3 separate regions of the Homo sapiens genome follow, and regions 2 and 3 are each linked to region 1. The links come from fine-mapping of genetic effects on gene expression. A gene starts in region 1. Each other region holds a variant in brackets. All regions are shown on one strand. Distances are between the middles of the regions. Region 1 holds the start of DR1 (down-regulator of transcription 1). Region 2 has its middle 48 kb from the start of FNBP1L. Region 3 overlaps CCDC18 (coiled-coil domain containing 18).

Region 1 (10,657 bases):
AACAATGTTGTATTTAGTTTTAATATTAGAGGAAAATTACCATATTCATATATAATATTCATAAGTATTTTCATGCCTACATAAGTTATTCAAATAGATTTACTATAATTAATCATTGTTTCAATTGTTTTTAAAAGTTAAATTAATATTTTTCTATTACCAACAATACAGCAAATAGTTTTTTCTTCTTTTGGTATTACTTCTTCAGGCAATAGACATTGTCTTTCTTGTTTATTGCCATATCCCCTCATAACCCCAGTAACTAGCAAAGTATATGGTAGACACTAATAAACATTTCTTGAATGAAAGCAATGCATGAATGAGTAAATGGAATTTACAGAAGTAGGCTTTCCAGTTCCATCTGCTTCAAATGCTTTTTAAACAAAATTAGCAGGACTGAATTAGATTCAACATTCACACCATTTGAAAGAAAAATTTATTTGCATCACAATTTAAACTTATCATCTATAGATAAAGAGATTTGCTATTCACCTCAAAATCTGAGTTAGTTGCATAGTTGACCCACAGGAATGTATCAGCTTTAACTGAAAAGACCAAAAAAAAAAAAAAATTCTAAGGTGTTTGTTCATGAACTGTTTGTACAAATATACTGGATATATACCATTTATTCCCAGTTCTCATCCTCCTCTGCAACGCTTGACACTTTGGGCTACTTCTTTTTCTCAAACTTGGTTGGTTGTGTATCTGTTTTTGTGACAATGAATTTACACAACTTCTCTTGCTGTTTCTTTGACCCCTCCTTTGCCCTTGCCTGTGGTCATTCTCTAAATATTTCCTTAGTCTTCTGCTCTTCTCCCTTTGCAATCACTGTCTATAATCACTCACCTATAATTTGGCTTCAACTTGTCCTTTCTGTGAAACATGCTCAGATCTGTATACCTAATCCTGATCACTCCATCTGTGTCTTTTCAATCTCATCCTCCTCCATTTCTTTGAGCTTCATTTTGCTTGTATTTTCAATCTGCTTCTCTTCTCTGGCTCCTTTCCCTTGAGCTACATGTGCCTTTGCAATTCCTCCTTGACCCTGCTTCTTCCTTAAGGTGTTTTCTCATTGCTCCCTTTTCCTTCACCACCAAACTTTTTGAAAGAGTACTCTCTGCTGCCTGGCTCTAGTTCTCCCCCCATTCCTCTTCAGTTCTTTGCATGTTGACTTCCGATCTCTCTTCCTGAACTTTTACTTCAGTAACACTATCTTTGATCCCCTTCCAACAATGCCTCTCTGTGGCATCTCACACTCTTGTAACTCTCTCCCCACGACTTCCTTTACATAATGCTTCTTGGTTTCTATCAAATCTTTCCTCAAATATTTTCTTCTTTTTGCTTTCTGTCTTTGAACATTTTTCAAAAAATTCTACCATCCTTAAAGGTCTTTATCCAGTTTCAAAGTTAACAAATATTTATTGAGTGCCAAGGACTGTCCTGGCTCTGGGGATGCAGAAATAAACCAGACCCTCACTGGCTCTGGGTACTTACAGTCTAGCTTAAACAAACCCTGCTATAGAGGGACTTGTTACATAGCCCTACTATATGATCCCACATCTCCGCTGTCCAACTCTCACTGGATACATCCATTTGGATAGCTATTTCTTTCTCTCCATCCAAATCTACCTCTTCTTACCATCATTGTCCCCACCTCCATTATTATTTAGGCACGGTCCTCGTATCTCACGGTAGATGCAGGCAGAAGCTAAATCCTGTAAATTCTGTTTCCAAATGCCTCTAATTTGTTTCTTTTATCTTATTATCACCAAACTTTCTTTGTTCAGGTCTACATCATTACTATTTTTACAATAGCTTAATAATTAATGTTCTTGTCTCTGTCCATTCCAGACCATCTCACATGCGAACTCAAACTAATCTTTTTAAACATTATTGTTTATGTCATCCCCCTTCTCAAAAATGTTCACTAACTCTTTCCACTGCTTACAAAAGGATCTCCAGACTTCTTAAAATGATGTGGAAAGACTTGAGACTTTGTAGTCAGAAAGCTTGGGTTGCATTTCCAATCTGCCACTTATTCACTCTGTGACCTTGAATAATCTCACTGGGCTTCAATTTTCCCATCCATCAATTGGGATTAATGACTAGTTATAAAGACCAAATACATGTGAAAGTGCTTTATATTTTTAAAGTCCTATAATGAATATAACCTTTTTTCCTTTTTTTTTTTAATTTAGAGATAGTTACCAAATTACAAATAGCTTCAGCTTTGGAGTTAAGTAACAACCTGGTTTGAAATTTCAGCTCCATTACTTATTATCTGTGAGACTTTGAACAAATTAGTAAAACTCTCTGAGACTGTTTTCCCCCCATGTCAAAACACCTATTTTGCATGGCTATATGGAAATTAAATGAAATAGCAAATATGAAAAACTTTTGGCCCAGTGTATAATTCATATCAGGCACTGATCTGTTTTCTTTTTGCCCTAACCTACTTTTCCTGCATCATATACCACTACACCTCTTTACAAACCTTATTAATAGAGCCACTCTAGACTACTTTATTTCCCCAAGCCATACAATGTACTTTTGTGTTTTTTCTTCAGCTACATGCTCTTTCCTTCCCTATCAAAATTGTACTCAATCTTCAAGGTGCAGTTAAAATATCCAGTCCTCCATAAAACCCTTTGTACTCCACAACTAGTGTGTTAATCACTTCTTCCCATGCATTCTTAGCCTGTATATTTTATCACAATATTTATTTGAATCTGGTTTATATTCTGCTTCTCCCACCAGATTATAGGGTCTTCAAGAACAAGGTGGGAGTTATATTCATCTTTATTTCTCCCACATCATAGTCAGGACACTAGACAGTTATTGAATGAATGTAGAAATCAGATGCTGTCTTCTCTTTCCACTTTCTATAGGACACCACTTCTACAAATGCCTGCCCAAACATGTGCAAAAGCAAGCACATCTTCTCTAAACAGCTCCCTTTCAACTCCACTGTTTTTGACAGTGACACTCCCCTAACCCTACTCTGAGGCTAAACTTTTTTTTTCCTTTTCTTGAGGCAGGGTCTCACTCTGTCACCTAGGCTGGAGTGTAGTAGTGTCATGGCTCACTGCAGCCTCAGCCTCCTGGGCTCAAGTGATCCTGCCACCTCAGCCTCCCAAGTAGGTAGGATCACAGGTGTGCACTACCACACCTAGACAACATGAAAAAAAAAAGTTTCATATATATGCATTCTCTCTGAAACTCTTAAAGCTTAATAAGGAGATGTTCTCTTTGTCCTTAAAAGCCTATTTATAATACAGATACATGTAGTGTACTATAAATAACTATTTAAATATGGGCTACAGATTAGCATATTTTATGACATATCACACTGGTATTTATATCCAATTAAATTTCTCTCAGCCACGTATGTAATAAACTAGTTACATGGTTCATTACTAGTTGAAGACTGACCAAGCCTGATAAAGATGATAAAAGACACTAACATTATATAACACTTCATACTATAAAAAGTACTTTCACACAACTCTCATTTGATTTTGAATCCTGTGTGTTACATAATATTTCTATATCTGAACTGAAGAAAATGAGGCTTGGAGAGTGACTTGTCTAAGTAAAAAAAAAAGCTGGGACTGGAACCTACAACTCTTACTACACATTCAATTCTGTTTATGCTACCACAGAAGCCTGTAGCAATAAACTATTACTGAAATAATGTGTGCTCTACTCGTCTATTTAGCATAAGTCTATAAACATAAATGTTACATGAAAAAGCAAAGTTATAGTTTTTTCAGGAGAGACAAGATAAGGGTCAGTGACACTGTGACAACTTGGGACATTTTTTGCCAGCCAGCTTTTTCAGACGGATAAACTTGTTAAGGTCAAGATAAATTTAGGCACCATAATAAATCTTTAAATCAACAGTAAACTGACAAAAAAAAACAAACCCACCACTTCATAAAGTATTTTTTTTTTTTTGAGATAGAGTCGTGCTCTGTCTCCCAGGCTGGAGTGTAGTGGTACGATCTTGGCTCACTACAAGTTTTGCCTCCAGAGTTCAAGCGATTCTCCTGTCTCAGCCTCCCAAGTAACTGGGATTACAGGTGCCCACCACCACACCCAGCTAATTTTTGTATTTTTAGAAGAGGTGAGGTTTCACCATGTTGGCCAGGCTGGTCTCGAACTCCTGAGCTTAAGTGATCCGCCCCCCTTGGCCTCTCAAAAGTGCTGGTATTACAAGCATGAGCCACCATGCCCAGCCTGAAGAAAATTTAATTAAAATACTGTTTTTAATCAAAGAAATTTTGTTTTGACTAAATTTAGTAGCACTGAAAAACAAGTGTCTACACTTCAGAAATTAAAGAACCAGTAAGTTGTCCTGCAGAAAATGCTAAATGAAAAAATAGCATAATAAACTGTAATGTCTTCTTGAGAGCAGCATATAGGGCTCAGACAGAACGTTTTAAGAAAACACTGTCAACAAGCCAGTTGCCATCATATGTATCAAGAGTAATGAATCTGATGAACCAAAGTGACAAAATGGATTTCAACAGTGTCTTGTTTAGTTTTTAGAAATTCCAACATCCCACTATTTATAGTATAGCCTCTTCTTCCACATGACAGTATGACAGACTCAGTTTTTTTACTTTTTTTTTTTTTTTATCTTTTTTGAGACAAAGAATCTTGTTCTGTCACCCAGGCTGGAAGTGCAGTGGCACAACCGCAACTCACTGCAGCCTTGACCCCCTGGCTCAATCGATCCTCCCACCTCGCCCTCCAGAGTAGCCGGGACTACGGGTGCCTGCCACCAAGCCTGGTGAAAAAAAAACCCGTGTTTCATATTGTCATATAGAAGAGGCTATACTATAAACAGTGGGATGTTGGAATATATATTTATATATATAAATATATATTATATATATATATATATATATTTTTTTTTTTTGTAGGGACGGGTCTCACTATGTTGCCCAGGCGGGTCTTGAACTCCTGGGCTCATGTGATCCCCCTGCCTCAGCCTCCCAAAGTGTTGGGTTTACAGGTATGATGAGCCACAACGCCTGGCTGACACACTTTTTTTTTTTTTAAATGCAATTTCTGTTTAGACCTTGACACCTGTTGATATTACTAGTCACTATGGAAAGAAGTAAAAACAGTTGCTTAAGATGCTCTAACACTTTTTTCCCCTGTAGAAGCCAACATGGAATACAACATGAAAACTGTCTAAATGGGAACCTTCTAATATAGCTCATTGTATGCCATGCATTTCCACTCCATTTCCACTATGTTGGAACTGACTTCTGCTTTCCTACTTAGCCATTAGGCGACTTAGTTGCCTCTAGGCAAGTAACTTCTCTGAAATGTTTCATTTTTCATGAAGTTTAAAAAAAAAAAGGTGAAGGACTTTAGAGAGCTTTGAACCGAATAAGGTCTATCAGACATCTTGAAAAGCTTTTTCTCCAGACGACGCAGAAACAGGCACACGGGGTTCTGCTTTCCCCACCTCCCACCCCCAAGCCCAGGTCCCATTCTTCTCACTTTCAATCCTCATTTGGGCTCCTAAAGGAATAGCAAAGAGAGTTATTTTATCAATACCAGCGCTCCTCTGTCCCCAAATCCAGCTAGGGAAGGTTTCGGAGGCCTCAGCTACTTGAGAGAGGGTAGAGACGATCCTTCCTCGCCTATCTACCCAGCCACCCACCCCTTCCCAGATGTAGCGTCCGGGCCCCAGACCAAGCGCGTGCTTGGAGCTCTCCGGTACAGTGAGGCGCGCGCTTGCCTGGCTAGGGTCCCTGTGAAGGAATGGGATCCCGAGGTGCTTGCCAGGACCGTAGCAGGCGGAAGCTGCTGGCAGCGCGAACGGGCGGCTCCCGCCGGCGTGGGTGGGGGAAGGGCGGCAGCCACACCCGGAAGTCGGTCCGGGAGGGAGGGGGAAATCTGAGGGAACGAGGCTTCCGGTGGCGCAAAGGGTGTCGGGAGCGGCTTCCTGCAAACCTTCCCTGGCATCTGGAGGGACCACCGTTGCCGCGTCTTCGGCTTCCACGATCTGCGTTCGGGCTACGCGGCCACGGCGGCAGCCACTGCGACTCCCACTGTGCCTGGCTCTGTCCATATTAGTTCCCAGGCGGCCGTCGCCGTTCCAGCAGCGGCAGCGGCAGCGGCAGCGGCGGACATGTTGTGAGGCGGCGGCGCGGGTGTCTGAAGGATGGTTTGGCCGAGGCGGCGGCAACGGCTGCTGGCGGCGGCGGCAGCGGCAGCGGGGCCTCGGGCTCTATAGAGCCGAGCCCGCTGGGTACCCGCCCGGTACCGCGGCGAGGCCAGTGCCCCTGGATCTTGCCTCTGCTCCGACGCCGTTGGGGACCAGTTAGGCGACAGCGCCCGCCCCTCTGAGGAGACACGAAGGTGGTTCCCCAGCCGCTCAAATTTCCGGACCACCGCGCTTTCCCCTCCTCAGCCTGGGCTGTGCTCTCTCTAGAATCCTCGGGCCCCCACTTTCTTCCCAAACTCATCCTAAATCTCTCACACACGCGAGTGTTCCCAGCCCTCAAGCCAGCTGCTCCTCCGTTCATTTTCTGCACCCTCTTCGCAAAGCACCCCCCGGGATCACTCTCCGAGGGCGACTTTTTGAGAAATCTCGGTGGAGTAGTGGACCAGAGCTGGGGAGTTTTTAAAAGCCGGGGCGCGAGAAACAGGAAGGTACTATGGCTTCCTCGTCTGGCAACGATGATGATCTCACTATCCCCAGAGCTGCTATCAATAAAATGATCAAAGAGACTCTTCCTAATGTCCGGGTGGCCAACGATGCTCGAGAGCTGGTGGTGAACTGCTGCACTGAATTCATTCACCTTATATCTTCTGAAGCCAATGAGATTTGTAACAAATCGGAAAAGAAGACCATCTCACCAGAGCATGTCATACAAGGTAAGTCGTGTGTGAGAGCTGGTTTGAATGAGGTTCTAGGGTAGCAGTCTGCTAATCGCGTGACCCTTTCGTGTCAAAGCCTCCATTCCTCTTCCCTGGTAAGTAACTTAATGAAAAAGCCAGACTGGCATGTAGGCAGCCGGTGCTTTAAAAACAATCCCTTTGTAGCATTTTTGCAGTACTTTTCATCCAGCGAATACATGTAAGGAGTGCAAACATTTAGGTCAGCGTCCCCAAAACGTAAAGAATAAGAGTGATCTCACTTTACAGCCAGGTAAGCCGAAGCAACAAGAATTACTTGCCTGAAGTTGAACTTAGATAATAATTAAGGAACGCAGAAATTCTCCTTTGGAAAGTTAAAATTCAGACGGAGGAACTTCAACGTGGGTGGAGACAGAGCACCCCCTTCCCCACCTGACCTTTCACCAATGTAGAGGAAAAGATTTATTTTCTGAACACATGAGTTAAAAAATTCTTAACATACAATGTGTTCAACGTTGTCAAGTTTATCGTTGTTAAATAAAAGGTGTATGTTTTCTGCTCTAAAAATGGTTTGATGGTACGTTCATGAATGAGTTACCAAATAACTCCTGTTCCATTCTGTAAGAATAGGGTGAACTTTAAATTTTCGTTTTTTTCTTTTCGTTTGCTTTTATGTCGTTTGCTTTGTTCTATTCTGTGGAGATAAGTTTTGAAATCTTTGATTGAAAGTTTATGCAAGTTTTTTTTTTAACGGAAAATTTCCCCGTCCTTTCCTGCTGTCATTCCTATTTGAATGTATACACTTAGGCTTTTATGGAACAGCACTTCTGAAAACTTCAACAGTTTCTTTTATCCTGGAAAGGATTTGGTCCCGTAATAGGGATTTGGGGGACTGTATTCTGGTGGTTTCAGAGAGGAGAAACATATTTACTATTCATAATGTTTCGGGAACGTACCTTTTGCGATATTTTTACATGTACTCTTGTGAAAGAGTTGTACTCAATTTGAGGTGAGAACTTGCCTTTTGTAATAATCTAATTAAAGTTATTGATTGCTTGTGAAATCAGGGAAAAATGATTAATTTTAATCATTTTGATAGGCAGGTGGTTGTCTATCACTTAATTTTTATAATTTAACTTTTTAAAATGTGACTTTCCTGTTGTACTGAAGTAGAGAACACATCTGCTTATATTGACCATATCCAATATTTTACTCTCAGTATTGACAAAAGGATTAAATGATTCATTTTTAATCCTTTATGACGTCTTGAAAGTAGTTTTAAAATATATCCTGCCATTTCAGTACACAAGCAGAAAAATCCCTAGGAAAAAGCATATTTGATTCTTAAAACTAGTACTAGTTTTTTTTTTTTCTACTTGTTTGGTGTGCTGAATACTCTAGCAAGTAAAATGAAAGCCAAGTTGTCTATTTTTTCCCTTGTGTATTTATTTTTACATTGTATGTGTGATTGCTGTCATAAGTCTTTCACAAGATTATCCAGCACAGATAGCTATAATTTCTTTTTACAACTCTTAAAAAGGAAAAAGAACCTTTATCAACATTGCCTTTCTAATGAAAATTGCAAAAGATTTCAGCAGGGTCTGCCTAAACATTTGTTTACACTACAGAAGTGGGGATCGTTCCAAAAACCTAATAACACATTACAGTCTGTCTTCTTGGGGAGAGTTGATTCTTTTCTAGGATATATTTAGATTTCTGATTGACATGATGGAATAGAAGTGCAGCTGTAGCAAGCAGTATGCTAAATAATTCAACTTTGGAATATGCTAAATTCAGTTTAATGTGTGAGTCAGAAAGCTATAGTGAAAAAGCATTTCCATTGTGTAATGAAGATGATTTGTTTTTAAAAATCATGTATTGACGTGTTACCTTAAATTTAAAAATTTACCTTTTTTTCTTGTATTATGCTATTCTTAAAAGTGGTTAAGAATCTACATTTTCGCCCAAGAATTCTCCCTAGTTGGGGTTGTAGACTTTATACATTTATAATCTCATATTGCTTAATTATTCCAAAGAAGTTTTGTTTTGAGAGATTACATTTTTAAAGAAATTCTTAAGGTTTATATGTTTTAGGTGTTTGAAGTGTGTGCCTATACACTAATCATAATAGGACATTTTTATACTTTTCTGTCAGCATTGATTAGGAATGTAGAATATATCCAAATGGAATAAGTAATGTACATTTTAAAGTGATATGATTCTCACATGTTGAAGTTTGGGTTTTTAGTGATAAGTTTAATGAATTAGACTTTGCTTCAGGACATTTCACTTGTTCATTTCTCACCTTGCTTTATCTTGTCTGAGCAAATTAAGCATTCTGAGATAGTTCTGTAAAATGCAAGTTAAAGTTGAACTAATTTTATCACCAGTATATCTATGAAATAACTTATTTAAAAAAATTTTTTTTTCTGTTTTGCTTATTTTGAGTTTAAGAAAGTAGACTTGGTATTGAAGACCATAGATACATGAATAGAGGGAGTTCTAAGCTATAAAAGGTGTTCCTATTTTGTTGCAGTTTTTTGTGAACACGTATTCTTGAATGAGTTCTAACATGTTCTGTTGCCTTATAGAAAGAATTGACATTGAGAGTCAGCTGTAAGTTCCGCACTGAGAATTCTTTAACCTTAGGGAAATCTTTTAACTAAGGTTTTCTTATTTGTGTACAAATAATACTTGATTTCAGGTATTACTTGTAATTTTTGAGAATTAGTCAGGGGTTGAGAACCTTACATGAAATATCTCCCCTCACATTTATGAGAATTGTAACTGAAAGTAGTAAAAGTTTGAAAGAGTATCTGAGAATTTGCGTCTTCAGCTGTTGAGTTGCTCCAAGCTGTCTTACGTTGAAGGAATTTTTAAAAAATTCCTGTCCTTCTCACACTAGTAGCTTTGTAAGATAACATGAAAATAGATCACTGGAAAAGATGAGGGAAAGACCAACACTCAATTTTTTACTATTTGATTCAATAGACATAAAATTATTTTGTCAAATTGCAATGAAGGTACTTAAATGCTTTGAATTTCCATACTTAACTAATGTTAACCATTAGGAGCAGTTTTGGCATAAGTCCATGGACCACAGTTTGAGAACCTTTGCTCTAAAGCCTAAACCAGTCTCTGTTGGAAAGTGGACGTAAGTAGTAAATAATCGTTTATACAGATATTTTTTCCGAAGGGACACATCTAATTTGCACTGCAAAATTTATCACATAATCAAATGCTTTTCAAGTTAGGATTTTATTAATACTTTTCTTTAAATTAATATATCTTTTATTTCTGTTTTCCTTCTGCCACCCCACAATTACTTATTGAATACTACCAATTATTTGGCATCATGCTAGGTACTACTAAGGATATTAAGATAAATGATACTCAATTCCTTCTCTGCCATTAGTCTCTCATTGTTGTCCAAGATTTCCAGTAGTGATACCATGGAGGACATGGTTCTTAAGGGGTTTCAGAAACCTTTGCCAGGCTAATGAGCCAAGAAGTCACTTTGGCCTACATCCTCTTAATGTATTTTATGTGAAATACATTAGTTGCTTCCTTCCCACAAACAAAAGAAAATGGAGAAATTAGAGAATGCTGATTTATATAGTATTTAAAAGGTACTGTATATCACGTAATTTTACAAATGAAAAACATGTTTTATGCATATGAAGTATAAAGTGAGTCACATAAATTCATGTTATGACAGAACCTTTCAGGAGTACATCACTTTGTAAAATAAGATAAGCCTATATGAAGATTATTG
Region 2 (10,657 bases), 55 kb after region 1:
AATTTGATTTTAGAAAGCCTGTCAAATATGTCAAAGATTTAAAACACTGGAACAGAAATAGGATCATAGGTCATTCATTTAGCAAAACTGATAATTAAAATAATTCAAAAAGCAAAAATCTTTTCTTTATGTTAGAGAGGGGACTCAGTTTTCTAAACTATCAAAAGGCCTAATAAAGACAGCTGGAGGCAAACAGAGTCTATCTGTCCTTCTCTTACTGTGTGCCCACTTTTTTGCAATTTACGAAAAATGAGCAACAATTTTTTTTTTTACTCATTAATACTACGCAAAAATCTTTTTCAAAAGAGAAAAGCAAATTTTATTTATTTTAATTTTTTTAGAGACAAGAGTCTCACTCTATCACTCAGGCTGGAGTACAGTGGTATGATTATAGCTCACTGTAACCTTGATCTCTTGAGCTCAAGCAATCTTTCCACCTTACAACCTCCTGAATAGCTAGGACTACAGGCACATTCCACTGTGCTTGGCTAATTTATACTTTTTTTTTTGCAGAGATGAGGTCTTGCTCTGTTGCCCAATCATGGCTCACTGAAACCTCACCTCCTAGACTCAAGCAATCCTCCCACCTCAGCTCCCCAAGTAGCTGGGACTACAGGCATGTGCTTCCATACCCAGCTAATTTTTGTTTCTTACTTTTTGTAAAGACAAGGCCTCCCTGTGTTGCCCAGGCTTGTCTCGAACTCCTGAGCTCAAGCAGTCCTGCTGCCTTGGCCTTCCAAAGTGCTGGGATTACAGGCGTGAACCACTGCACTTGGCCTTGCCGACAATTTAAAAACTAGTTTTTCTTTGCCAGATATTACTAAATTGACATGAACTTGAAAAGCATTTTGGCTGATTATTTAATTTATGAACACTCATTTATTTAAAAGTCAATTTGGTACCATGTAGATAATATAAAAAGGCAGCCATGTACACATGTATGCATAAAATACAGACAAACATAAGTAAAGATTTTATAGCATTGATTTAAAAATTTTAGCAATAAGACAGGTAAAACTCACATAAAGGGCAGTTGAATTCAAACTCTGTCATTGTAAATGGAACGAGTTAAAGTTTATCTGTCCCACATATTCAAAGCCCTTATAAGGGTTTTTTTTGTTTTGTTTTTTGTTTTGTTTTGTTTTTTTTTAGAGAAAACAGTGTAGCACATTTATATCTCACAGCACAAAGAGAATTTAAGCTTTCTGAAGAAGAAGTCAGGGTGTGTTAGAGAAAGATTAAAAATAGATGCCTAGGTAACACAAAATTATAGGAATTCACCACAGGATTTTATAAGGAGATCAATTTTAGTTAGGTAGTTTTCAATTTAGTCTCCATTTTCCAATTGGACCACTCAGCTCAGGGTGAAGCCCATTAATGAATAATGCCAACAAAATGCTTACAGTTTCCTGGGCCTAATACTGGTATTTGTGAAAAGCAGACACAGCTGGAAGGCAGAGCACCTAGATCCTAGAAATTTATGACCCCATTTTCACACTGAATTCCAGTTTCTCAGAGTGGAGGCAAAAGTCCAAGAGAGAAAGGTCATGGAAACAGGTCGTGCAATCTTCTACAGTGTATCTCACTAGAAGGAAAGTTCCCCAAGGCTGGTGGGTGACTCAATAAAAGTCCCCCAAGGCTGGTAGGACTCCAGCCCACTCTGTGATCAGCCTATCCCCCATAGGAGTCTTATCCTTTGGTGGTGAGTGTTCCTACAGCCTCCAAGTTTCCAAAATGTACTTTTTAAAAAATCTAGCCATGCAAGCACTTTGGGAGCCCGAGGAGGGCGGATCACGAGATCAGGAGATGGAGACCATCCTGGCTAACACGGTGAAACCCCATCTCTACTAAAAATACAAAAAATTAGCTGGGCGTGGTGGCGGGCACCTGTAGTCCCAGCTGCTCGGGAGGCTGAGGCAGGAGAATGGAGTGAACCCAGGAGGCGGAACTTGCAGTGAGCCGAGATAGCGCCACTGCAGTCCGGCCTGGGCGAAAGAGCGAGATTCTGTCTCATTAAAAAAAAAAAAAAAAAAAAAAATCTAGCCATGCAAAAAATAAAAATAAAAAAAAGTAGCCTCTGTGTAATACCTATTCATTGCAACCACTGTCAGCCACCTCCAAAACTGCAGCCCTCACCAGTGACTGCAGCCACTGAATGTAGAGCCAGCCATTGCATACTCAAGGATCAGGTATTCTCTCACAGTACAAAGTAACTTCTGGTACCCTCAAAGCCAAAGCTGTCAGGGAGCTCAGTGCAAATGAGAGCAGAGCTTTAGACCTGAGAAGAACCTGCTCATGACTTTTGGTGCTTCATGAAGAAGACAGAAGACCCCAAAATGTGGTCAGAGGCACCTTTTTGGTCTTCCTTAAGGAGTGTCATAGTTGCTAGGGTTCCCCTCTAGATCTCTTCGTGTGGTATCAAAGGTGGTAAAGGAAGGAAGAATAAAAGTAAATGGGATAATAAGTCTCAGGGAAGCCAATTTGGGGAGATTTAAAACTTCTCAAAAAAAGTCAGTGAAGTTTTACCTTTTTCTAAGCAAAAAATTATACCAACAGGAAAGGAAGCAAACAGAGGGATGAAACATATTTTACACACTCACATATATATATACGCACACACATGTGTATGTATATGTACATAAACACACACGCACACATACAATTTTGAGACAGGGTCTCACTCTGTCACCCAGGCTGGAGTGCATTGGCACCATCATGGCTCACTGCAGCCTCGACCTCCCAGGCTCGAGTGACCCTCTCATCTCAGGCTCCCAAGTAGGTGGGACCACAGGTGCATGCCACCATACTCAGGTAATTTTTTTTTTTTTTTTGTAGACATGAGTTCTCCATATGTTGCCCAAGCTGGCCTTGAACTCCTGGGCTTAAATGATCTGTCTCAGCCTCCCAAAATGTTGGGATTACAGGCATAAGCCACCATGTCCAGCCCAAACATATAACTTTTTATAAAGAGTTTCAGTAAACTGAAAAAAATTCTCATGGGAGAAACAAGATCCAAAAGAGAAAAAGCAGAAAGGCCTTAAAAAAACTTTTAGTTTGAATATCAGTTTTTAATTAAGCTGGCTTCTGACCACATAAAGCTTTTTAAAAACAATCTTTTAAAATCTGTCAGAGTTTAGCCATGACAAACAGCCAATATTCTTGGTTTTGAACTTCTTTAAATCAAAGTTATCTTCCAAGTGACTCCAACCAAAACCTATAAGCCTTTTATGACTTAACCAAGGATGCATAAGGCATCTCCAAAAAGGTGCAAAGCAGTTCTCACAAGAACCAGAACTACCCCAAAGACAGCTCAAGGAAAAAAAATTTACTAGTTGCAAATGGGGTACAATATACATTTCTGACCAACCATGTTCTTTAGGGTCTTGGCTTATCAACTAACCATCTTCACATAAAGTCTCAGCAATTGCATGCCCCATAGAGGGAAGATTAAAATAGACAAACAATTAGTAAGACAGGAAACTAAAAGCTGTCCATGGAAGGGAACAAGAACAGTAATAAATGGGTACTCCAAAAGTCAAGAGTTACACACAAATATCAAACCTGTAATCACCCAATGAGTTCTTCCTGCCTGCTCTACAGACAGAATCAATTCATTTAGAGCATGGCATTGCAATAGAGAAAGAGTTTAATTGATGTAAGGTCAGCCATGTGGAAGAACTGGAGTTATCACTCAAATCAGTCTCCACGAAGGCTCAGGAGTTAGGGTTTTACACCTGAGAAGAACCTTCTCATGACTTTTGGTGCTTCATGAAGAAGACAGGAGACCCCAAAATGTGGTCAGAGGCACCTTTTTGGTCTTCCTTAAGGAGTGTCATAGTTGCTAAGAGTCCCCTCTAGATCTCTTCGTGTGGTATCAAAGGTGGCAAAAAAGGAAGGAAGAATAAAAGTAAATGGGATAACAAGTCTCCGGGAAGCCAACGTTTTGGACAATTTGGTGGACAGGGGGATAGGGAATGGGTGCTGCAGATTGGGTGGGGATGAAATCATAGGGGTATGGAAAATGGTCCACATGTGCCAACTCCACCTTGGATAGGGGCCACAGGACCAGTTGAGTTATGAGTCATGGGTCCAGATGGGGTCAGTTAGTTGCAAGACAGTCTGAAAAAAATCTCAAAACACCAATGTCAGGTTCTACAATAGTGATGTGATCTATAGGAGCAATTGGAGAGGTCACAAATCTTGTGACCTCTGGCCACTTGACTCCTGAGAAGTAAGGGATTATAGAAACTATATCTACATCTTATCAGCATTCAGACCCCACTCATAATCCTAACCTTATGGCCTTTCATTAGTTCTGCAAAGGTGGGTTAGCTTGGGGAAGGGGTTATTATCATCTTTGCTTTAAGATTAAACTATAAACTAAGTTCTTCCCAAAGTTAGCTTGGCCTACATCTAGGAATATAAGACTAGACTACAAGTTGAAATGTCTCCTTTTTAAATCCTGTGGGGAATCCAAAGCAGGCAGTTTTAGTGTACAAAGGATTTTAACTTTGTTTTAAATCTGATTTCTGCTTTTTTTTTTAAGGAGAATTTCTAAGGCTAGTCATGACACTAATATGTGTCTTTCTTTCAATTTGATCCTCCCACAAAAACAAATAAGGCAATTACTTAGAATGGAGTAAAATATTTTTCAGATATAGGAGTCTTTCTAGTCCAAAGGATCCATCTTCTGGCCACTAACGATTAGAATTTCCAACTATGTATTTATTTCAATAGCAACTCAATTCAATAAACCTCTTCATGGATAGACCAGCAGGTAATTTTCCAGGTTTGGAATAAGTTTTTACCACATAAGCAAGCGTATCCCTGGAGAGGGCATAGAACAGCTAATTCCCATGATTTCCCCAAATTCACTCCCAGAAATAGGCCAAAATAGCAAAAACCTCTTGTCACAGATGGTAAAGAATGGTGTTTGTGTGCACTGTTCCTTCATGTTCTGCAGGGAGCAAGTCTATGCAAATCTACCCCCAAAGTTTAAGGAAGCTGAGAGGCTGAAGAAACAGGCTGACAATCCAGTTTTTCAGGAAGAAAGATTTAATAGGGAATTAACAAAGAGAAGCCATCTCTGTGTCTTGTTTGATGGCAAGACAAGATAGTGGATCCCTGCACCATTTACCCTCCCAGGCCCAGGGTTTACATACCACAGGGGAGGAATGTGTAGGACAAGTGAAGTCAACACCCAGGGAAAGGCAAGAATGCTATGTGAATCTGCCAAAGGGCAGGATTTAAAGTCAAGGTTATTTGACCTAAGGGCAGAATTTACAGTAACAGTAAAGTAGAAATCTTAGAGGTATTCTCAGAACAGGGAATCAGAAGTCAACATTGTGGATAAGCATTCAAAATGGAATTGCTTTAGCCTCTACACTTCAATAACCCACAAATTTATAGGGGACTACCAGTCACAGATCCTTTAATTGGTGACAACAGGTAGGTTCTCTTTGGATTAGACTTTCCCAGAACTAACGAGGCAACAAAAGTCCCTTATGGTTAAGACTTCTTATGAAGACAAACTTCCCTGGCCGAGTGTGGTGGCTCACACCTATAATCCCAACACTTTGGGAAGCAAGGCAAGAGGATCCCTTGAGGCCAGGAGTTCGTGATCAGCTTGGGCAACATCTCCCACTCCCCTAAACAAAAAAAAGAGA[G/C]AGAAATTAGCCAGGCATGGTGGTACACACCTGTAGTCCCAGCCACTGGGCTGAGGCAAGAGGATCCCTTGAGCCCAGGAGTTTGAGGATGCAGCGAGCTATTTTGCACCACTGCACTCCAGCCTGGGTGAGAGAGTGAGACCCTGTCTCTTAAAAAAAAAAAAAAGAGACAAACTCCCCTGAGAGCTTGGCACATTCTGAACAAAGAGTGTGCTGCTTGATAGCTTATGTGTCTTGGGGTTCCCAGTCCTTTCAGAACGTAAACCAAAAATAAAATTCAAAGGCCTCCCTTCAACCATCTGAATGGACTGCCTCCTTGGCCAGGACACTCTAAAATTTAACCTGAAAGACTGGTTGGGGCCATGACTGACAGGAAGGGTGGGAGGGGTTGGACATACCTTATTATACCTCTCCAGCATTAACATCAACACAGACCTTAAGTCTGATAAGAAACATTTACAATCTATTTTCTCTGAAGCCTGCTACCAATTGCCAATTGCCAATCAGAATATGCTTAAATCTACCTATGACCTGGAAGCCCCTGCTTTGAGTTGTCCCATCCTTCCAGATCAAGCCAAAGTAAATCTTACATGTATTGATTAATGTCTTGTGCCGTATGGTTTGGCTTTGTCCCTACCCAAAATCTCATCTTGAATTGTAATCCCCATACTCCCTATGTGTCAAGGGCAGGACCAGGCAGAGGTAATTAGATCATGGGGGCAGTTTCCTACATGCTGTTCTCATGATAGTGAGTGAGTCTCACGAGATCTGATGGTTTTATAAGCATCTGGCATTTCCCCTACTTGCACTCACTCCATCCTGCTGCCCTTTGAAGAAAGTCCCTGCTTCTCCTTCGCCTTCCACCATGATTGAAAATTTCCTGAGGACTCCCCAGGCATGCAAAACTGTGAGTCAATTAAACCTCTCTTCTTTATAAATTACCCAGTCTCAGGTATTTCTTCATAGCAGTGTGAGAACAGACTAACACAGTAAATTGATACTGAGGTAGTGGGACACTGCTATAAGGATATCCAAAACTGTGGAAGTGACTTTGGAACTGGGTAATGAACAGAGGTTGGAATAGTTTGCAGGGCTCAGAAGAAGACAGGAAAATGTGTGAAAGTTTGGAACTTCCTAGAAACTTGTTGAATGGCTTTGACCAACATGCTGATAGTGATATGGACAATGAAGTTCAGGCTGAGGTGGTCTCAGATGGAGACGAGGAACTTGTTGGGAACTGGAATAAAGGTGACTCTTGCTATGCTTTAGCACAGGGACTGGCAGCATTTTACCCCTGCCCTAGAGATCTGTGGAACTTTGAACTTGAGAGAGATGATTTAGGGTATCTGGAAGAAGGAATTTCTAAGCAGCAAAGCATTCAAGATGTGACCTACTTTTTCTTTTTTTTTCTTTTTTTTATTATACTTTAAGTTTTAGGGTACATGTGCACAACGTGCAGGTTAGTTACATATGTATACATGTGCCATGCTGGTGTGCTGCACCTAGTAACTCATCATTTAACATTAGGTATATCTCCAAATCTTATCCCTCCTCCCTTCCCCCCCCCCACAACAGGACCCAGTGTGCGATGTTCCCCTTCCTGTGTCCATGTGTTCTCATTGTTCAATTCCCACCTATGAGTGAGAATATGCGGTGTTTGGTTTTTTGTGCTTGTGATAGTTTGCTGAGAATGATGGTTTCCAGCTTCATCCATGTCCCTACAAAAGATATGAACTCATCATTTTTATGGCTGCATAGTATTCCATGGTGTATATATGCCACATTTTCTTAATCCAGTCTATCACTGATGGACATTTGGGTTGGTTCCAAGTCTTTGCTATTGTGAATAGTGCCGCAATAAACATATGTGTGCATGTGTCTTTATAGCAGCATGATTTATAATCCTTTGGGTATATACCCAGTAATGGGATGGCTGGGTCAAATGGTATTTCTAGTTCCAGATCCCTGAGGAATCGCCACACTGACTTCCAGAATGGTTGAACTAGTTTACAGTCCCACCAACAGTGTAAAAGTGTTCCTATTTCTCCACATCCTCTCCAGCACCTGTTGTTTCCTGACTTTTTAATGATCGCCATTCTATTTGGTGTGAGATGATATCTCATTGTGGTTTTGATTTGCATTTCTCTGATGGCCAGTGATGATGAGCATTTTTTCATGTGTCTTTTGGCTGCATAAATGTCTTCTTTTGACAAGTGTCTGTTCATATCCTTTGCCCACTTTTTGATGGGGTTGTTTTTTTCTTGTAAACTTGTTGGAGTTCATTGTAGATTCTGGATATTAGCCCTTTGTCAGATGAGTAGATTGCAAAAATCTTCTCCTATTCTGTAGGTTGCCTGTTCACTCTGATGGTAGTTTCTTTTGCTGTGCAGAAGCTCTTTAGTTTAATTAGATCCCATTTGTCTATTTTGGCTTTTGTTGCCATTGCTTTTGGTGTTTTAGACATGAAGTCCTTGCCCATGCCTATGTCCTGAATGGTATTGCCTAGGCTTTCTTCTAGGTTTTTATGGTTTTAGGTCTAATATTTAAGTCTTTAATCCATCTTGAATTAATTTTTGTATAAGGTGTAAGGAAGGGATCCAGTTTCAGCTTTCTACATATGGCTAGCCAGTTTTCCCAGCACCATTTATTAAATAGGGAATCCTTTCCCCATTGCTTGTTTTTGTCAGGTTTGTCAAAGATCAGATGGTTGTAGATATGCGGCATTATTTCTGAGGGCTCTGTTCTGCTCCATTGGTCTATATCTCTGTTTTGGTACCAGTACCATGCATTTTGGTTACTGTAGCCTTGTAGTATAGTTTGAAGTCAGGTAGCGTGATGCCTCCAACTTTGTTCTTTTGGCTTAGGATTGACTTGGCAATGCAGGCTCTTTTTTGGTTCCATATGAACTTTAAAGTAGTTTTTTCCAATTCTGTGAAGAAAGTCATTGGTAGCTTGATGGGGATGGCATTGAACCTATAAATTACCTGGGGCAGTGTGGCCATTTTCACAATGTTGATTCTTCCTACTGATGAGCATGGAATGTTCTTCCATTTGTTTGTATCCTCTTTTATTTCCTTGAGCAGTGGTTTGTAGTTCTTCTTGAAGAGGTCCTCCACATCCCTTGTAAGTTGGGTTCCTAGGTATTTTATTCTCTTTGTAGCAATTGTGAATGGGAGTTCACTCATGATTTGGCTCTCTGTTTGTCTGTTATTGGTGTATAAGAATGCTTGTGATTTTTGCACATTGATTTTGTATCCTGAGACTTTACTGAAGTTGCCTATCAGCTTAAGGAGATTTTGGGCTGAGACAATGGGGTTTTCTAGATATACAATCATGTCATCTGTAAACAGGGACAATTTGACTTCCTCTTTTCCTAATTGAATACCCTTTATTTCTTTCTCCTGCCTGATTGCCCCGGCCAGAACTTCCAGCATTATGTTGAATAGGAGTGGTGAGAGAGGGCATCCCTTTCTTGTGCCAGTTTTCAAAGGGAATGCTTCCAGTTTTTGCCCATTCAGTATGATATTGGCTGTGGGTTTGTCATAGATAGCTCTTATTATTTTGAAATAAGTCCCATCAATACCTAATTTATTGAGAGTTTTTAGCATGAAGCGTTGTTGAATTTTGTCAAAGGCCTTTTCTGCATCTATTGAGATAATCATATGGTTTTTGTCATTGGTTCTGTTTATATGCTGGATTATGTTTATTGATTTGCATATGTTGAATCAGCCTTGCATCCCAGGGATGAAGCCCACTTGTTCATGGTGGATAAGCTTTTTGATGTCCTGCTGGATTCAGTTTGCCAGTATTTTATTGAGGATTTTTGCATCAATGTTCATCAAGGATATTGGTCTAAAATTCTCTTTTTTTGTTGTGTCTCTGCCAGGCTTTGGTATCAGGATGATGCTGGACTCATAAAATGAGTTAGGGAGGATTCCCCCTTTTTCTATTGATTGGAATAGTTTCAGAAGGAATGGTACCAGCTCCTCCTTGTACCTCTGATAGAATTTGGCTGTGAATCCATCTGGTCCTGGACTTTTTTTGGTTCATAAGCTATTAATTATTGCCTTAATTTCAGAGACTGTTATTGGTCTATTCAGAGATTCTACTTCTTCCTGGTTTAGTCTTGGGAGGGTGTATGTGTCGAGGAATTTATCCAAATCTTCTAGATTTTCTAGTTTATTTGCGTAGAGGTGTTTACAGTGTTCTCCAATGGTAGTTTGTATTTCTGTGGGATCGGTGGTGATATCCCCTTTATCATTTTTTATTGCATCTGTTTGATTCTTCTCTCTTTTCTTCTTTATTAGTGTTGCTAGCGCTCTATCCATTTTGTTGATCTTTTCAAAAAACCAGCTCCTGGATTCATTGATTTTTTGAAGGGTTTTTTGTGTCTCTATTTCCTTCAGTTCTGCTGTGATCTTAGTTATTTCTTGCCTTCTGCTAGCTTTTGAATGTGTTTGCTCTTGCTTCTCTAGCTCTTTTAATTGTGATGTCAGGGTGTCAGTTTTAGATCTTTCCTGCTTTCTCTTGTGGGCATTTAGTGCTATAAATTTCCCTCTCCACACTGCTTTGAATGTGTCCCAGAGATTCTGGTATGTTGTATCTTTGTTCTTGTTGGTTTCAAAGAACATCTTTATTTCTGCCTTCATTTCGTTATGTACCCAGTAGTCATTCAGGAGCAGGTTGTTCAGTTTCCATGTAGTTGAGTGGTTTTGAGTGAGTTTCTTAATCCTCAGTTCTAGTTTGATTGCACTGTGGTCTGAGAGACAGTTTGTTATAATTTCTGTTATTTTATATTTGCTGAGGAGTGCTTTACTTCCAACTATGTGGTCAATTTTGGAATAAGTGTGGTGTGGTGCTGCGAAGAATGTGTATTCTGTTGATTTGGGGTGGAGAGTTCTGTAGATGTCTATTAGGTCAGCTTGGTGCAGAGCTGAGTTCAATTCCTGAATATCCTTGTTAACTTTCTGTCTTGTTGATCTGTCTAATGT
Region 3 (10,657 bases), 110 kb before region 1:
ACTGTTGACTTATTTGCCTTTACAGCAAATTATGTCTTACAGAGAAAATTCTTTCTAATGTTGGTTAATATAATTAACACCTTGTAACAGCAGAGTTGTGAAGTTTTCATCATATATAGCTACATTTTAGAAAATCTGATTTGAGTAATAGTGCATCCATTCCGTTAATAATAGGTGATATTATAAAGATGTTCTTATCTTTTAAATCAGGGAATATGCCCCAATCATATAACTCACTGAATAATTAAGTGGCCCTAGGGCATATAGGTAGAAATTTAGCCAGTTGTAAAAACTACATGTTGATTACCCGTTGCAAAAAGCTAATATATGTTCCTCTGAGCTTTTGCCTCAGCCACATATTCTTTTCCGGATGTTGAAATAAATATATTTATGATGAAAATAATACTTTGGGGTTCTGAATTTTTGGAAGATATTTAATTTCATATTAAAATGTTTTTAACAATGCTTTTAAAATAATAAAGTTATGTGTTCATGCAAAATTACATTGTCAACATGATAAAAGAAACTCAATACAAAGTAGATGCGACTAAGCCTAAATGTTTTCTGCATAAAGATTTTATTCAATAAAATCAGTCGTTTCATTGATAAATATCTTCATTTAAATGGATGGACTTAGATTTTGAGAAGCTGGCATCATATTTCTGCATTATATTTTATTTTTAAGCAACAATTATGAGACTTTCTGCTTTGGGTACATAGTGATACTAGATAAAGTTAAGTGTAAGGTAGATTTTATCATCTAAATTCTACTTTCTTATTTACTTCAATTATAAAATATTAAGTACTCTGGGAATATAATAATACATTAGTAGAAAATATGATGTAAAAACAATTTGTTCTGTATTTACTTTTAAACTAAAGCCAACTGGCCAGGCACGGTGGCTCATGCCTGTAATCCCAACACTTTGGGAGGCTGAGGCAGGCAGATCACAAGGTCAGGAGATCTAACACGGTGAAACCCCATCTCTATTAAAATTAAAAAAAAAAAAATTAGCCGGGCGTGGTGGTGGGCGCCTGTAGTCCCAGCTACTTGGGAGGCTGAGGCAGGAGAATGGCGTGAACCTGGGAGGCGGAGCTTGCAGTGAGCCGAGATCGCATCACTGCACTCCAGCCTGGGTGGCAAAGGAAGACTCCATCTCAAAAAAAAAAACAAAAAACTAAAGCCGACTGGAGTTAAAGGTCAGTACAATGAAATGTCAGTGTAAGTTTGATAGATATATGTTCTATTTTGTAAATATTTGTGATAACTAATTTTAGCTATTTCAATATATGTAATTGAAATGTCAGTGACTAGATTACTGAAATAAAATTTTGTTGTTATTATGTGGTAAGGCTTTGTGTTTTGGTTAGATCTTATTTTTTTCTTCTGTTTTGTCTTATTTTAATATTTTGTCCATTTTTTTCTCTGAATAGGTAAGTATGAAACAGGATGTTCCAATAAAGAAAAAAAGAGTATTTAAACCTGTCTTGCAGGCAAGTCAGTTCTATCTAAAATAAACCAGTGCAGAAGTGTGATCTGCAGGTTTGGTCAGGAGCTAAGAGAGAAAACAAAACAGGTGATACTGACACATATTTACACTAAATTATTTTCATGCAGACAGAATTAAACAAAACATATTTGCATGAAAAGGGATTATAATTCAGGATTAGAGATCAGTTAGTTGCCTGTGATATCCAGGGTTACTTCGAGTATACAACATCATCATATAATTAAGAAATCTGAAATCTCAGAGCTTCTCATAATGAGCAAAGAATATTTGGCCCTGAAGGCCTTAATGTTCACCTGCTGGATAGTTAGAAAAAAGAAGCAAGTCGTGATTCTCTTCCGCTATTTACTATAAGGAGTTTAAATTTCCTTTTGGAATGATATTTACTGGAAAGATTCTTTGCTTTAAAGGAATGGCTTTATTTTCCTTCACTTAAAAAATTTATTATATAAGCAACAACAAGAAAACTTCTAAAGAACATTTACCTACAGCCCATTCTCTAATACTTCAGTTTTCATTTTTCTGTTTGCATGTATATTTTTCAAAATTATATTAATGAAATGTGATTTTTTAACTTTATAAATTTTTATGTTAGCTGTCTTTTTAATTATTTTAAATGGTTGCACATTTTAAATCACATTGACAATCATCACTTATTAAATCTTCCATTCACTTTGGTAGGAGATGAAGAATATTATAAAATATATTTTAAATTATGTTTCATTGTTGATAGTATTTTAAAAATAATTTCTGCTGGCATATTTTTAGAATTTGGATTACTAGGACAAAGGGAATTTATTTTTCTTCTTAATAGGTGCTCTTGGATAAAAGTATCTTAAAGCAATTTTGGAGACCATCATATTCAAGTCCTAAATATATAGAGTAATTAGTGAAATTTCTTAGTTGTTATTGTCATTCCTTTATGTGTTTTTTTGTAGCATAAATATTCAGCAGTGCTTTGCTGGGATATTATTATATAAACAACAGCAATAATAGCAACAATAACAATAAATAGCACCAAACATCATATAGTGCTTTTATGGCTCTAGTTTATTATTAGAAAGGGTGAAAGAATCAGGTGAAGTGCAGATAAAACCATGGCTGCCTATGCTGTTCCCTCCTTCTGGGAGAGGTCAGACAGAACATGCTCCTTTTTATAGCAGTAAAATGTGGCAATATCTGTTTCTGCCTAGGGAAGCCTATTTATGACTCAAAGTTCAGGGTTTTTATTGGGGGCTTGTCACACAGGAACAATGACCAGCCTACAAGTATCAAAAATTCCAGAATTCTAAAGGAAGGCATGTTTCAGTGCCCCAGCCAGGCAAAACAACCTCATCACTTAGGAACATTTTTAAAGCCACATTTCCAGACACCAACCAAGAGCAATCCTATAAGCAAGCCCTTCCAGTACATCTCCCCATTAGAAAAATGAATACTGTCCTTCCAATGACAAACTATAGACATGAATGCAATTGTCCCACATGACAAGTGGATGGTTATCTAATAAGGAGGACAGCTTTGACATTTTATTGCCATTTATTTGAAACATTGCATTGTATTGAGAGATATATATATATATTTGCCAGGTATATTGTTTACAGAAAGAGCTAAAGATAAAAAATCACAGTCTTCAAGAGACTTCTGAGCAAAACGTTATTCTACAGCATACTCTTCAGCAACAGCAGCAAATGTTACAACAAGAGACAATTAGAAATGGAGAGCTAGAAGATACTCAAACTAAACTTGAAAAACAGGTATATATTATTAGCCCAAGATTGTTTTATTTGTATGAAATAGAAATTTTTAAAATCATGAATAGATTTTTCGTTAGTTTTTTAAATTGCTGTTTGGCCAGATGCCGTGGCTCGTGCCCATAATTCCAGCACTTTGGGAGGCTGAGGCAGGCGGATCACCTGAGGTCAGGAGTTCGAGACGAGCCTGGCCAACATGGCCAAACCTCGTCTCTACTAAAAATACAAAACTTAGCCAGGCATTGTGGCACATGCCTGTAACCCCAGCTACTGAGGAGGCTGAGACACAAGAATTGCTTGAACCCAAGAGGTGGAGGTTGCAGTGAGCTGCAATCGTGCCCTTGCACTCCAGCCTGGGCGACAGAGTGAGACTCCGCCTAAAAAAAAAAAAATTGCTGTTAAACCTCAAGGATTTTGCATTATAAGAAATACTCTATACTGATATTGTAAAATAAAGTTCTATTCCTATGTAATCTGACCTCCATCTCTTATACCATGATTATATGTTTGCTGTTCCATACAATTTATAATTCATGTTTCTTTATTCAATCTCTCTTCTTGTACCTAATCTGAATACCTATAATTTTTCCTTTTTGGATCAGGACATGGTATGTGATATTCCTTAAAGAAATGGCAAAGCAGTGCACTAAAAGAAAAATCCCAAGGGAAAATACCCCTGAAAGTTCTAAAATTAAAAATTATTACTTACTTGAATGTAAGAATTCTAGAGAATTTTATACTAGAATCTAATCTTTTTCCTTTAATTCATTACTGAATTTATCTGAATTCTTTAGATATTTTACATTCTTATTTTGTTTTTTCTTTGAAAAGAAATCAAATTTACAGTAATGTGTAAATTAGAAAATGATCGTCCCCTGTAATCTTACTGTATTTTCCTTTTTTGTCATTTTTTCGGTCTTTTATCTACTTGTTCTGAAGTCCTCCTCAGCCTGTCCAGTGGAACTAAAGTATCTTCCTCTCACTACATTTAAACACATCAGGCAGGTATTCTGTATTTTTTTTTTGAGACGGAGTTTCACTCTTGTCACCCAGGCTGGAGTGCAATGGCGCGATCTCAGCTCACTGCAACCTCCGCCTCCCGGGTTCAAGCGATTCTCCCACCTCAGCGACCTGAGTAGCTGGGATTACAGGCATGTGCCACCACACCCAGCTAATTTTGTATTTTTAGTAGAGACAGGGTTTCTCCATGTTGGTCAGGCTCGTCTCAAACTCCCTTCTCTGGTGATCCACCCACTTGGGCCTCCCAAAGTGCTGGGATTACAGGCGTGAGCCACTGCTCCTGGCCTCTATTTTTTTTCAAGAGACATCTTCCTGTGACTCTCCATCCCTTTTGTTAAAATTTAGACCTACTGCTTGCTATGCCTACTATACAGCTTCATCCTGAAGCATTTCTTCTTCTCATCTATGTTTGATTCCCACTGCCTACATCCTTTGTCATTGACTCTGGTTCTTGCAGGATTGATTATGATTCTTGTTCCTAACTCACTTCTATAATGGTTGTATGGTTTTTTCTGTTTTGTTTTGTTTTTTTTTAACAAGTTCACTTTTTTTTCTTTTTTTTCTCTTTTTGAGACGTAGTCTCACTGTGTCGCCAGGCTGGAGTGCAGTGGTGCGATCTTGGCTCACTGCAACCTCTGTCTCCCAGGTTCAAGTGATTCTCCTGCCTCAGCCTCCCGAGTAGCTGGGACTACAGGTGCGCACCACCACATCCAGCTAATTTTTGTTTTTTTAGTAGAGGCGGGGTTTCACCATGTTGGCCAGGATGGTCTTGATCTCTTGATCTTGTGATTCGCCCACCTCAGCCTCCCAAAGTGCTGGGATTACAGGCGTGAGCCACTGCGCCTGGCCTCATTTGTATTTTTTATTTGGTGATTTTCTTTGTGATCTTGTTTTAAAAGATTTTGTGTTCT[C/T]ATTAGCTTCACTGAGGTCTACAGAAGTTTATATCTAAAAATTTCTTCAGTATTTGGAGTAAATTTTTGACTTGGTATTCCTTTTCTGCCTTTCATTCATATTACACTGTGCATAGGTTCCATTTTGCATCTTCAGATTTCTCTATTTAATTAAGAATTGAGTAGGTGGATTTTCCTTGGTTCCTTTCCCTTTTTACCTGGGTACTGTTTTAATTTTCTTCTTGAAACTTGAGGTGGAGGGGTGGATATTAATGGGGTTTTCTTGTTTTGTTTTGTTTTGAGACCGGGTCTTACTTTGTCACCCAGGCTGGAGTGCAGTGACATGATCATGGCTCAGTGCAGCCTCAACTTCCCTGGGCTCAGGTGATTTTCCCACTTCTGCCTTCCAAGTGCATACCACCATGCCCAGCTAAGAGTGTGTGTGTGTGTGTGTGTGTGTGTGTGTGTGTGTGGCTTTTCTTTTTTTTTCTTTTTTTTTTTTTTGGTAGAGACAGAGTTTCACCATGTTGCCCAGGCTGGTCTCGAACTCTTGGGCTTAAGAAATCCACCCTCCTTGGCCTCCCAAAGTGCTGGGATTATAGGTGTGAACCACCGCACCTGGCAAGATATTAATGGTTTATGATCTATATTTAGTTCTTCAGTGAGGGATTTTAGAAGAACGGGGGATATGCAGGTCAGAGTTGAGAGGTTAACTTTGAGACCACAGTCATATAAATATTCATGAAGACATGGAGTGACTGAAATTACCTAGGGAGAGAATATAGAATGAGAAGCAAGAAGATTGACTTGGACAGATCCCTGAGGGATGTGATACATGGAAGCCAAAGTAAGTATTTCATTAAGGAAGGAATGAATGTTGCTGTCATGGGCTACTGGAATCAGTGTCAAGTAAAATGAAGGTTGGGAAATGTCCATTGGAATTAGCAACTTGGAAGTCACTGGTGTTGTAATCCCTGTTTCTGTGGAATGGCCTCTGGCTATGGGTTGAAGAATGAGAAGTGAGACAGTGATACAACATGCATAGAAAACTTTGAGAAGTTGGGCTATATATGGGAGGAAATAAAGGGTAGTAGGTAGAGGGAGGTCAAGGTCTGAAGAAAAGCTTTTTACAGTGGGAAAGTCTTTTAACATGTTTAAATGCTAATATTAAAAAAACAGTAGAGAGACTGAAGATATTGGAAAGAGGAGATAGTAGTATGAAGTTCCTGAAAAAATGAATAGGAATTGAATCCACAACACCTATGAAGCAGTTTGATTTATATAAAGGAGGAAGAATACCTCCTTTATTGTAGTAGAATAGAGGAAGAATGAATAGGAACAGATTCAAGTTAAGATGGGAGCAAATGCAAATTAGCATTTGAGGTCATGTGGAAATCTAGGAATCTATTGAGTGAGCCAATTCGTGAAGAAAAGAAAGGAGCAGTATGGTAAGAGAAGAAAGGGCATTTCAAATGGGGACAATGAAAAGGGGAATATTTACTATCATTTTGTTCAATTATTTTAACACTTTAGTGTTATGATGTGGCCACTTCCCTAAATAGTAATATGTATGTGAAGTATCTTTATTATTAGAAAGTAAGCCTTGCTTTTTATATTTTCCAAACATTACTTCTTGGTCTATATGTTGATTTTTATGATACATCTTGAAACTGATAAGCTAGGTTACATATTTATAAAAGTATTTTTCTTCTGAATTTAAAATGTTTACTGAAAACTGCTTTACAAGGTGTCAAAACTGGAACAAGAACTTCAAAAACAAAGGGAAAGTTCAGCTGAAAAGTTGAGAAAAATGGAGGAGAAATGTGAATCAGCTGCACATGAAGCAGATTTGAAAAGGCAAAAAGTGATTGAGCTTACTGGCACTGCCAGGTAAAATGTGAATATGTTTTATTTACCTTCCCACTTCAATATCAGTGGTATCTGAGTTTTGAAATCAGATAATGTTCAGTGGAGCATTTGCTTGAGGAATTAATGTCTCCATAGTCTGTGTTCCTATTGCATTTTGTTTGTATTTCCTTCATATCTCTCATTATGCTTTTTACTGTATTACAGTTTAATGCTTTTAACCTTCCTACTATAAGTTTCTTAAGGCAAGGATCATACCTGGTTTATTTTAGGGTCTTACACAACAACTGGCACAGTTCCTTATACCTCATAGGCACTCAGCAACTGTTAATTGTGAATAACATTAAAAGTTGTAGGCAAAAATGTAAATGTACTCACATAGAGGAAACTTTCAGGCAATCCAATTATATAGGGGAAGAATGACAATATAAAAGTGGTTCTCAGCCTTGAGTGAATATTAAAATCACCTCAAGAGCTTGTAAAAAAACATACTGATGACTGGGTCCCACTTTTAGATTAAATAAAACCTAAAGATTCTGATTTAATTTGGCTAGGCTGGTCCCAGGCATCGATACTTAATTGGTCAAGAAAGGAACCCATGAGCTGAAAGCAGTACCCAGCCTCTTCAGATCTCTTCTACTTTGTTGGGAAGAATTGACATAATTTATAACATAATCAGCCCACCCTTCTACCAACAGGAGTCAAGAGTGAACTTAGGCACTGGCACTAAAACCACATGTCCCCAGGTTCCCTCTCCTCCATTGACAGGGGTCCTTTGTGCTCAGAGGAGCAACTTGCTTCCTCAGATGTCTGTCACCCTCTCAGCAGGGTTGAGGGCTTCCCAAGTTTAAGACTAAGACCAAAGTATTTCACACCTTCTTTCTTCCATTGACAGATGTTCTACTCACTAACATGGCCTCACCACTGGTGTCCACCTTGAGTCTGTGAAGACTGACTGCATTATCACTTTATCCTTGTTTATGCCAGATACCACAAGAAACCCTAGATTTCCAGGTCAGCTCTCATATCTCACACTAATTCCCAAAAAACTCTCCACACATTCTGTTTCTTTCTCCAACCCCATCCCAACTTCTGAAAGACTTCTACTGTGCCTTTTGAACTTCATAATCCATTCTCTGTATTCACTACTTTTTCTTTTCTCTTGCTGTAATAGAAACCTGGCCCTCCCCTAAGGACATTGCTTCTTCCCCTGTAGCCTTCTAAAGTAAAAAACTTTTCCCCATAGCTCTTGTACCACAGGGTCCAGGCAAGGTGTGAAGTATATACTATACTTGGTGAACCTCATGCCATCAGAACCCTTACTGGTGCTGATTTCTTTAGACGGCCTGACTTACTGTTGCCCTCTCCAGCATCACTTCTGTCATTCTTCTTGGGGATTTCAGTACACCTCTGAAGCTGATCCTTCTGACACCTTGGCTTCTCATTTTTAACAATTTCTGTACTCTAGTGATCCTGATCTTTAACATACCTCAGCCACTTACTCCCATGGAATTTATCTTGTGCTGAAAATTTAAATCAAAACCAAATAACATTTTTTGGTAGAAATTTTCTAAAATGTATATTTTCTTGGGGTTTTTACTTTCTCTGGGTATCTCAGGGTTATCATTATATACATCATGCTAAAATGTAGTGATACCCTAATGAAACTTTGAGGCATATACAGTTCTGTTTTTTATAAAATGTCTGTAGGCTGCTAATGCTTTTTGAGTCCTTGTATATTTTCTATAATTTTCCCCTAACTCCTTTGCTGACAAGCCATCTGCTCATGGCTCTATGCCAATCTCTTTTGATTATTCTTTTCTAATTATCTGTTTTATATCTACTTTAATATTAGAGCTAATTGGTCAAGCTAAAAATTATTTACTTGGGATTTTAGAAATGTAAAAGTGTCATTAGCACTCATCTAATCTAGTACTTAATTGGTCTATGGACATATTTGAGGATCTGGTAAAAAGCTTTAGCTTGTCTTCTATACATAGATGTATACATGTACATTATACATGTATAATTTTGCATACTGTTTCAGGGGTTTTATAGTTTTCCTTAAGTTTACTCATGGACTTCCAATTAAAAAACTCTTGAACAAATCCAAATTTGTTGAAGTTTTATCTAGAAAAGAAATGCTCCTACTTGCAAACTCAATTTAGAAATTTCAAAGATCAAACAACAGAAAGTGTTGACACAAAGGAACATGAACTCTTCCTACCATTGAGGGTAACATTAACAATTGTTTAATTAGTAAATATCACTTTAGAATTACCAACAAAGGGACTTAAAACTGGCTCTTAGTATGTTGATTTGTCTGTAGGGGAGCTGCCGTATTAGAATAAGTTCAGGACTGACAAAGTTAGTAAACCTGGCCCTATCACTATTAACAGCTAGTTGTATTATCTCAGACAACTCACCTAGTCTTCAGTTTCCTCCTCTGTAAAGCAGGGAAGTTGCACTAGTCTAGGAATCTCTAGTTCCTTTTAAAGCTAAAAAAAGGATAGAACCAATAATAAAACTGAGTAAAAGCAATTGACTTGGCTCTCCAGTGAGTAATATGGTTTTTATGGTGAATAATTTGATTGTTTGGCTTATTTATTTTCTTTGTTGCTAATAACAAAAATTCCTAGATGAATGAGGTCCTTGGATATTTTCAATACATGCAAAGCTAAAGTTAAATGTGGTTAGAGTGAAAAGAATGCTAGGCTTGTTAAATATTACCAGGTAGTAGTAGTAAAGTTGTATTTAGTGGTATGTAATGTGTAAAGGAATAGTTTTTAGTTGGAGAATTTTTAAAAATAGGTGATTTAAAATTCCAACTAGATATTTTGCTGATATTTGTCCTTATATAACTTGCAGGCTTTTTTTTTAGTCAGAGACAAGTTAGTTGGTTAAGTTTCTAAATTACCTGTTTTATTATTTGTTTTTAATTAGGCAAGTAAAGATTGAGATGGATCAGTACAAAGAAGAGCTGTCTAAAATGGAAAAGGAAATAATGCACCTAAAACGAGATGGAGAAAATAAAGCAATGCACCTCTCTCAATTAGATATGATCTTAGATCAGACAAAGACAGAGCTAGAAAAGAAAACAAATGCTGGTAAGCAAGTGGTTAGATGAGTATAGCTGCCTATGTATTTGTACTTAACGAAGTGAAATAATGTGAGAATTTGAGATGGTGGGGCTGGAAGGGAAAATAAGTGGTATTTTGCCTCTCGTAGATGAATATAATTGAATATTCTTAATATATACAAAGTTTGTAATAAATGGTTTACATATAGTTATAAAATTATTCTCTCCTCTTAATAGTAAAGGAGTTAGAAAAGTTACAGCACAGTACTGAAACTGAACTAACAGAAGCCTTGCAAAAACGGGAAGTACTTGAGACTGAACTACAAAATGCTCATGGAGAATTAAAAAGTACTTTAAGACAACTCCAGGAATTGAGAGATGTACTACAGAAGGCTCAATTATCATTAGAGGAAAAATACACTACTATAAAGGATCTCACAGCTGAACTTAGGTGAGTTAAATAATAAGAAATTATATCACAGTTATAAGTCCTTGGATAATACAATAAAATATGTTGTTGCATTCTAGACGTCTAAATTTCTC

The links. PIP is the estimated chance that this variant, and not a neighbour inherited with it, causes the effect.
Region 2: its variant is fine-mapped to the expression of DR1 in whole blood (TOPMed, PIP above 0.99).
Region 3: its variant is fine-mapped to the expression of DR1 in whole blood (TOPMed, PIP 0.95).

Annotation. Positions count from the first base shown.
Region 1 is chr1:93,339,966-93,350,622 of GRCh38, forward strand. It overlaps DR1 (down-regulator of transcription 1), which reads left to right and starts at 5,942. Exons shown (of 3, transcript NM_001938.3): 1 at 5,942-6,900. The coding sequence starts at 6,681. CCDC18-AS1 (CCDC18 antisense RNA 1) reads right to left here and starts at 5,846. Exons shown (of 9, transcript NR_034089.1): 1 at 5,759-5,846; 2 at 493-545. RefSeq lists enhancers at 5,537-6,072, 6,442-6,511, 6,572-6,781.
Region 2 is chr1:93,394,887-93,405,543 of GRCh38, forward strand. No RefSeq gene overlaps it. Among named protein-coding and RNA genes, the nearest start is that of FNBP1L, 48 kb to the right of the region's middle. The variant G/C (reference allele first, on the strand shown) is at 5,667.
Region 3 is chr1:93,229,332-93,239,988 of GRCh38, forward strand. CCDC18 (coiled-coil domain containing 18) reads left to right here. Exons shown (of 29, transcript NM_001378204.1): 18 at 3,095-3,262; 19 at 6,917-7,059; 20 at 9,979-10,142; 21 at 10,352-10,565. Among named protein-coding and RNA genes, the nearest start is that of CCDC18, 54 kb to the left of the region's middle. The variant C/T (reference allele first, on the strand shown) is at 5,191.